2 separate regions of the Homo sapiens genome follow, and region 1 is reported to be linked to region 2. The links are microRNA targets in miRTarBase. Many come from high-throughput screens and were not tested one by one. Region 2 holds a microRNA gene; the other region holds the end of a gene's coding sequence.

The links. The annotated mature microRNA hsa-miR-4441 reads ACAGGGAGGAGAUUGUA and lies in region 2 at 1,771-1,787, shown strand. An mRNA with a match to its seed (bases 2 to 7 or 8) in the 3' UTR can be bound and repressed. Matches are read on the target gene's strand: a 7mer-m8 pairs with bases 2 to 8, a 7mer-A1 pairs with bases 2 to 7 and ends in A, and an 8mer does both.
Region 1: miRTarBase lists HOXA11 as a target of hsa-miR-4441. Seed matches in the 3' UTR shown: 7mer-A1 at 2,418-2,424, 7mer-A1 at 2,069-2,075 and 7mer-m8 at 1,665-1,671.

What each region holds. Positions count from the first base shown.
Region 1 is chr7:27,179,630-27,183,379 of GRCh38, forward strand. HOXA11 (homeobox A11) reads right to left here. Exons shown (of 2, transcript NM_005523.6): 2 at 1,528-3,399. The coding sequence ends at 3,167. HOXA10-HOXA9 (HOXA10-HOXA9 readthrough) reads right to left here and starts at 610. Exons shown (of 3, transcript NM_001433944.1): 1 at 17-610. The coding sequence starts at 26. It also overlaps a transcript of HOXA10 not described here. RefSeq lists enhancers at 1-112, 113-714, 3,202-3,750.
Region 2 is chr2:239,082,983-239,087,614 of GRCh38, reverse strand. It overlaps MIR4441 (microRNA 4441), which reads left to right and starts at 1,689; the gene lies at 1,689-1,788. HDAC4 (histone deacetylase 4) reads left to right here. Exons shown (of 27, transcript NM_001378414.1): 19 at 1-56; 20 at 3,373-3,460.

The sequences.
Region 1 (3,750 bases), not on the chromosome of region 2:
ACTTGTGGCCTCTTACCTTGACACATTTCCGAAATCACTGCCAAGGGACAGCTGGCTTCTCCGCGCGGCGACGCTCGCGAGGCCTAGCGAATGCGCGTTGCTTTAAATTACCATACCAATCACTTCTTGAGGGTGAGTCCCCTTTTTCTGTTATGAAGGGGAGCGGGACAAGTGAAATAATGTACCGTGCTGCTCTTAGTATCAGAAGCGAACAAAGGCCAAGAATCATGCTGGGGTTCCCGGCTCCCCGGCGGCTTTGACATTGATCGGAAGTGCGCCATCTCGTGGCGGCTGCGCGCCTAGGTTGGGCCGGAGTTCCAGCCCCGAGCCGAGAGACGGAAACCAGCTCCGGGCAGAGAGAGAAGGAGAGAGGAGAGGATGTGCCCAGCCCGCTGCTATTGAGATCTCATTTTTACATCTAAGAAATCGCTGCAAAACCCCAGCCGGGTTTATAGCGGCGCATTCCAAATATGCAAATTGGCCGGCCCCGGACGGGTTTACGACCACATTGTCACAGCCATCGGAGGATGGGCTTTTATAGGGCTCAGAAATCAAACCCGCGCCCGCCCGCCGCCCGCCCGCGAGCAGTCCTCCTGGCTAGACTCTCTCTAGCAACTTGAGAGACTTTGGTTAATCTTTAACCATCCCAAAGGAAGTCTTTCCCTAAACCCAGGCTTCCCAGCCCGCCCCCTCCCTGCCCCCCAGGAGGGCCCTTGTTCATGTCTGCGTGTCTGCCTATCAACCTAGACATTCATCTCTAGATCTGTCCCACTACCCTTTCAGCTCGATTTCCCCAGTCGCGCCAGTTAGACAAACACACAAACAAATAAACAGAGTGGGGTCTGGGGCCTCTCTCCAAATGCGACCCTATCTGCTGCTCTGGCCCTGCCTGGGTGGCTGAAGAGAGGGTGGGGTGGGCAACAAAGGGCTCTGTCCTTTCAGCCCTTCTCCTCAAGGTTATGGGTGATGTCCAATTTTAAGGCAGAAGTTCAAAGGCAGCAAACAAAGAGGAAATCGGCATCCTTTTTTTTTCCCCCAAAGGGAAAAAGCAGCCTCAGCTGGGAGCTGGGGAGAAAGCACCCTTAGAGGCTCCTGGGAGTCTGCTCTGCCTTGGAACCCAGACCAGGCTCCCTCTTGTTGAAGCCTCCACGGGCCCCCGGACGGTCCCACTGCAGGCCTACCTGTCCTGAGGTGAGCGAGGGCAGCCTGGGGTCTGACCTGTTGGCCACCTCAGGCCCCAAGGCCCTCTCCAGGGCTGAGATCAGTCTGAGGGGATAAAGTCCTATATTCCAGGCCCTGAGATACCACCCAGGTCCCCACTTCCCACAAGGACGTAGCCAACCACCTTGGTTTCCTAAGCCTGGCTTCTGTTGTAGCCAATTCCTGACTCAGTCACCTTCTCACCCCCTCAGGGGCCTGATAACTTGCTCCTCAACTAGGTAAGGCATTTTTTGGGGGGGTGGGGGGAGGGGGGCAGACATTTGGTAGTAAAAGGCGATCAGGGAGAGGAATGTCACACCAGGATACTCAAATTTCCACCGTCTTTATTTTCCTTGTGCCCAGTTGCCTGTATAAGTGCTGCAACACACACGGTGGGTAAGAACCAGAATTGAGGACAGGCCAACACTCCCAGTACAAATGGAGCCAACAGACATTTCTTAACACAGGGAGGCAAAGGAGATTCAATGGGAGGGTGCCTGGCTTTCCCAGATGAGATCCCCAGGCCGGCCAGGCCGACTGCCTCTGAGCATTTCCCTAACTCTTTCCAAATGTTGCAAGAGATTAAAAAGACCATTCTCAATACCTTTTCCACCCCCTCCAACACCCTAAAGGAAATCAACTAATGGCAAAAGAAAAAAGAAAAAGAGAAAGAAAGAAAAGAAAATTGATTATGGTTCCTTTATTTACAAGTTTTTTGAACACCATCCCTGTATGAAGCATACATTCAAATATTCTTAGCAGTGAGCGAGTTTAACCACGGAACACTGTAAACAGATAGGGCCTTTAAATATTTTCATCATCTCTTTTCCCCTCTACATTGCATCTTTTAAAATTCGCTTTGGTTCCTTCAGGGAAATATATATATATATAATATAATATTTATCTTTTAAAATAATTCCACCTCACTCTCAGGCTCTTGGAAGGTCACCAGAAGCTTCCAAGCTCAGTTCAAGAGCCAATGAGGGCTGAGTGTGGTGCTGGAACCCGGTGTTTTGGGGGACTCAAGGCCCTCATAGCCAAAGCTGGGGACCTGCTGGCCAGGCCCACTGCTCTGCAGCCAGACACTGAGCAAATCCAAGTTTCATTACGTGTGGTGGAGAGTTTGCCAAACTGCCACACTCCACAGCCATTTCCTGCAGAGATCTCAGGGGCCAGTGGCCTGGCTGCAGCCTCTTGGCTTTTCCACATCTCCCACCTCAGGGAACAGTCCACTCTGTGTCGAGGCTTTGGGCCTGAGTGGCAGGCTGGAACCAAGACCCTCATTTGGTAGAAAGAAAAGCCAGGTGGGCTGTAGGAGGCGGTGGCTAGGAACTCAGGGCTGGATCAGTGTGGTGGGTGGCTAGGAGGAGTGGAAAGACACTGATGCCACCTGGAATCATAGATTTCTTTTCCCACAAGGATTTGCAGCCCTCTTCCACCTCAAAGCTACCTCCAAGTCCAGCCGCTGTTCACATTGGCTTTGGAAAGCAGCCTCATTCTGGGCACCTAGTAATCCTACCCCTTCCTCCTGCCCCTGTCCCCAAGCTGAACTGGGCTTGGAGAGCACACAGCTTTTTTACTCAGGGGTCCTGGGGGTGGGTAGGCTCCCAGTAGAGGGAGGGTGTGGTGGGGTTAGTCTCCAGGGGGTCTGGCAGGGGCCCAATCCCCAGTGGAGACCACACCCAGCCCGCAGCTCTGCAGGCTCCAAGAGTGAACCACCAGGGGTCCCAAACCTGTCATTCTAGCTGATGCACAGCTCTCAGAATCCAATGATTATTAGGAATCTTAACCACTGAGATCTTAATCAAGAGAGTCCCAGACCACCTCCTGTGGGGCTATCTCCATGCATCCCTCTCTTGCACACCTCTTTTCAAAAGTCACCATGTGGCTTGACTTTGTCAAGGGCAAAATCTGCATATTATCTCATGTGTATGAAGCCCCCCACCCAATTCCAGCCGCTGGAGTCTTAGAGGAGTGGATTTGCTGAGTAGTACTGTAAACGGTCTCTGTTAATTTTTTTTTCCTTCATTCTCCTGTTCTGAAACCAGATTTTGACTTGACGATCAGTGAGGTTGAGCATGCGGGACAGTTGCAGGCGCTTCTCTTTGTTAATGTAGACGCTGAAGAAGAACTCCCGTTCCAGCTCTCGGATCTGGTACTTGGTATAGGGGCAGCGCTTTTTGCGGGTGCGTTGGCCACCTGTGGAGGGAGAAAAGGCATGGGGTGAGCCAGGTGTGGGGGCTGCAATCCACCCCAGAGCCCATAGCTGAGGAGAAGGGCTGCCATGGGGACTGGTGGTCCAGCCCAAGCCCCGTCAAAGTCTGCCCAGGCCCCTGCCTTTAACGCTCCGACTGCATGCTTGGAACGGCCGCAGTTGGAGGCTCAGCCACAGATAAAAGCCAGCTCCCTAAATAGGCCCCCGGGGAAGCTGCTCCCGCTGCCCCCAGAACAGAAAGGAGAGCTTCGCACAGCAACAGGCGAGTTTGCGCTGCCTAAGCCTCTTTGAAAGCAGCCAAGTGGGGGTTGCCGGCTGCCTCTCGCAGGCCAGAC
Region 2 (4,632 bases):
AATGGCTTTGCTGTGGTCCGCCCCCCTGGACACCATGCGGAGGAGAGCACGCCCATGTGAGTACACGCCGCAGCCCCGCACAGCAGGGGAACCCAGGTCTTCCTTCCCTCCCTTAGGGCTGGGTGGGTGTGTGAGTGACTGCGGGGAGCTGGGCTGCTGTTTGCTGGCCACCCAGGATGTGCCGCATGCCGGCTTGGCTCCAGCTCCTGGGTGTGGAGTGCAGATGCCAAAGTCTGCGAGCATCACTGCTCGGTTATGACGGAGACAGATCAGAGGAAAGGATGGGAAAGGGTCTGTGGAGGTTAGTCCAGAGAAGCCTCTGGTTGTTGAGTAGTTGTCAACACTTGGGAGAGGAAACACCACTCACCCTCAAGTGAGTCACTGCAGCACTTGCTTGTCTAGAGGACTCAGGTCATTTTGCGCATGGCCTTTTAGCTGCCTGCCGAATGCCTGGTACTGACGCAGCAAGCCACAGAGCCACGTCCATGCAGGCAGCTATCCTGATGCTGTTTCGGGTCTTTCAGAGACTGCCGACGGTCCATACAGCTGAGGATCTGGGCAGGGTGGCGAGTGTGGGGTGTGGGTCCTCCCGGATCCATCCCTGTGTGTCCAGAGCCAGTGGCAGGACAGACCCGCAGCTGTCTGTGGAGTGCCTTGCAGCCTGGGTGGTGAATGAATGATCTATCCCGTCAAAGAGCATGCTGTCTCCTGGGACGGTAGCCGCTCTAGTGAGGAGGGGTGGTGCTAGAAAGAGCGTCTCCCCATGCTCTGGAGATGGAGAAGGCGTGCCTGATCTTGCCAGCTTCGGTGAGGAGGAGGTGGCATAGGGCTCTGCCTTGGAGAGTTGGAGCAGCAGTTTGTCAGATGGCAACGCAAGAACAAGTGCAGATACAAGTTCACTATCAGGCTGTGGCCAGGAAGCAGTCAGAACAAGACAGAACCGCAGGGGCCCGGGAAAGGGCCTCCCTGTCACCCCTGGGAAGTCAGGCGTCCACGGAGGGGCCGGCAGGACGTGAGAGATAGTCAGATCCGCGTGTTAGAGCAGAATCTCCTTCACGTACAGGGAGGAGACTGTACGTGAGAGATAGTCAGATCCACATGTTAGAGCAGAGTCTCCTTCGTGTGCAGGGAAGAGATTGTACGTGAGAGACAGTCAGATCCGCGTGTTAGAGCAGATTCTCCTTCATGTACGGGGAGGAGACTGTACGTGAGAGATAGTCAGATCCGCGTGTTAGAGCAGATTCTCCTTCATGTACAGGGAGGAGACTGTACGTGCGAGATAGTCAGATCCGCGTGTTAGAGCAGAGTCTCCTTCGTGTACAGGGAAGAGACTACGTGCGAGATAGTCAGATCCGCGTGTTAGAGCAGAGTCTCCTTCATGTGCAGGGAGGAGACTGTACGTGAGAGATAGTCAGATCCGCGTGTTAGAGCAGAGTCTCCTTCGTGTACAGGGAAGAGACTGTACGTGCGAGATAGTCAGATCCGCGTGTTAGAGCAGAGTCTCCTTCGTGTACAGGGAAGAGACTACGTGCGAGATAGTCAGATCCGCGTGTTAGAGCAGAGTCTCCTTCATGTGCAGGGAGGAGACTGTACGTGAGAGATAGTCAGATCCGCGTGTTAGAGCAGAGTCTCCTTCGTGTACAGGGAAGAGACTGTACGTGCGAGATAGTCAGATCCGCGTGTTAGAGCAGAGTCTCCTTCGTGTACAGGGAGGAGACTGTACGTGAGAGATAGTCAGATCCGCATGTTAGAGCAGAGTCTCCTTCGTGTACAGGGAGGAGATTGTACGTGAGAGATAGTCAGATCCGCGTGTTAGAGCAGAGTCTCCTTCATGTACAGGGAGGAGATTGTACGTGAGAGATAGTCAGATCCGCGTGTTAGAGCAGAGTGTCCTTCGTGTACAGGGAGGAGATTGTAACCGCCAGGGAGGGATGCTTGTTGGAATCTTTGTAGCTTTACCTGAAAACCACGTGTTTGCTCCACATCCCAGAACAGTCACTTGGGCACCAGGCTTCCTGTTTGTTTCATTTCTCTGAAGTTTCTTTTCTAATTTGAACCTGAGTTGTTGGATATTCCAAATAATAAACCTCAGAGGAGACAAACGAATTGTGTTTTGTTGCAGCTCTTCGCTGTGCTCCCCGTGAGCCGCTGCAGGAGCTCAGCGTCTAGGATGTCCTGGGGCGTGTGGGCTTCCCCATGCCAGCCCGGATTCTGAAAACAAAACAACTAGTGTTTCTCCGTTTCTGTGGTCATTCGGACAAAGGGAATTTGAGATCAAGAAGGTTTTCGTTGTTATTTGAATCACTTTCATAGCTTGTTTTCTTGGTCTCTTGAGTAAGACTCTCTAAAATTAAAGGTAATTTATGTATTGGAATATAGGAAGGTCAGCAGGAAGCAACTGAGATGAACGGCTGCCATGTCTCCTGGGGCGTGGCGGCAGCTCCTGAGAGGAAGGGTTCCAGGTGAAGATGAGGGAAATGTTGGTAACATGTGAAATAGGGTTCCCTACCAGAGGAGCGTGGGGGACCTCCAAGCAGGAGAGTGTGTGTGTGTGTGTGTGTGTGTGTGTGTGTCTGTCTGTCTCAGTATGGAACTGTGGATGTGTGTGATAGGTATATGCTTATGTGTATATGTGTGTGTGTGCTTGTATGTGTCTGTGGTTTGTGTGTGTGTGAGTGTTTCTGTATGGGGTGTTCATGTGTATCTGTGCATGTGTGTCTACGTGGGGGGGGTGGGTATGGGCGTATCTGTGGGGCATATATGTGTGTAGGGCGTTTGCATGGTGTGTGTGTCTCTATCTGTGGGGTGTGGGGTGTGTGTGGGGTGTGTGTCTGTGTGGAGTGTGTGTGGGGTGTGTGTCTGTGGTGTATGGGCGTATCTGTGGGGCATGTATGTGTGTAGGGCGTGTTGCATGGTGTGTGTGTCTGTGTGGGAGGGTGTGTCTCTGTGGTGTGTGTGTCTGTGTGGGGTGTACGTGTGTCTCTGTCTGTGGTGTGTGTGTCTGTGGGGGGTGTGTGTGTGTCTCTGTCTGTGGTGTGTGTGTCTGTGTGGGGTGTGTGCATGTCCGTGTCGGTTAGCCGACCCTATGGCATTGGCTAAGATTCCCCAGTGGCTTGTTTGGGAGCTGTGTGTGTGTGTGTGTGTGTGTGCGCGCGCACGCGTGTGAGTGTGTCTGCATGTGGGGTGTGTACGTGTCTGTCTGTTAACCGATTCTCCGGCATCACTGAGGGTTCCCTGCGACGTATTCAGGAGCTCTGCACTCACAGAGACCTCTTAGGTCTGCGTGGACCCCGAGTGGCTCTCTGGCGGGCCGTGGAGAAACTGGCCACCGCCCACCTGCGCTTCGTCTCCAGCGTCAGTTCTCTCCCGCAGGGGCTTTTGCTACTTCAACTCCGTGGCCGTGGCAGCCAAGCTTCTGCAGCAGAGGTTGAGCGTGAGCAAGATCCTCATCGTGGACTGGGTAAGCAGAGCCGCCTTGGCCAGCGCAGCTCAGGTTGCTCCTTTGCCGTCCCCGAGCGGACAGCAGCGTGTGGACAGAGGAGCTGGGCTCTTGGATGTGGGAAGCTTAGGTTTCTGGAAACGGTCTCAAAGATGCGGAGAAGTAAAGCCCCAAACCTGCTACAAGTCATTGTACAGCTTCCGTCAGCCGACCCTGGCGAATGGGGTCCTGGCGTGTCTAAAAATGTGCCTGTGGGTGACGGCAGCGGCCAGGGCCACCCTCGACGAGATCTTCTTGGAAGACAGGTGTTGGGGAGGAGGCTGTGTCCACATCTACTTTGCGTGTGTGGCCTGGGAGCCTGGGAGGACCCTCACCCTGGTCGAAGGCGGCAGTCTGCTTCTCAGTCACCCCAGTGAAGCCCGTGCCTTCCTGCTGCTGTGTGGGCACCTGGTCCTGCTGGAATGGGGGGTGCCACTGCCCCCAAAAGAGTCATCTCTTTTTAAATAATGCTATATGATGTCCGAATCTGAATTCCACGAATAGGTATACTCATTCTTATACCGGAAATTAATATTCAAGATATTCATCTTATTACTCTTTTTAAAGCCAGATATATACATATTTAGTGTTCTCTTTGGTATTTATGATTTATTTCATAATTTTTAAGGGAAAAAAGCAGGCCCTGTCAGGTAGGGTTATGATTTGAATTGGAGAAGTCCTTCTGAGTTTGGGTAAAGAAACAATATGGCACAGCCAGGACAGCCATGCTGTTTCGGAGAGGCAGGTCAGGGGATGCGGCAGAGCAGCGGGTCCCCCACACCCAAGGACCTGCGAGCCGGGAGCCCTCCCTCAGCTCCTCCTAAGGGAGCAGGTAGGAGTGCCTGGGAAGAGAGCAGTGTGAGGTCGCTGATGGCTAAAGACTGGGGACCCATCCCCAAAAGAGTGAAGCGCTAGGACACGCAGACAGGCTGCGTAGACCCTGTGTGGCGTGCTCCCTGCGCGCTGAGCTGTGATATTGCCCATGTACACACCATGCGGACAGGGTCATCTCAGTGTGAAGCCACATGTCGGGAAAGCCTCCATGTGCGTCTTCACAGCGATTACCTACTCTGTGGGGTGGAAGGTTCTTGTCCATCGCTCCTCACCTGTAGCTGCCCTTCCGCCTTTTCTGTGATGAGCACAGATAACGGAGC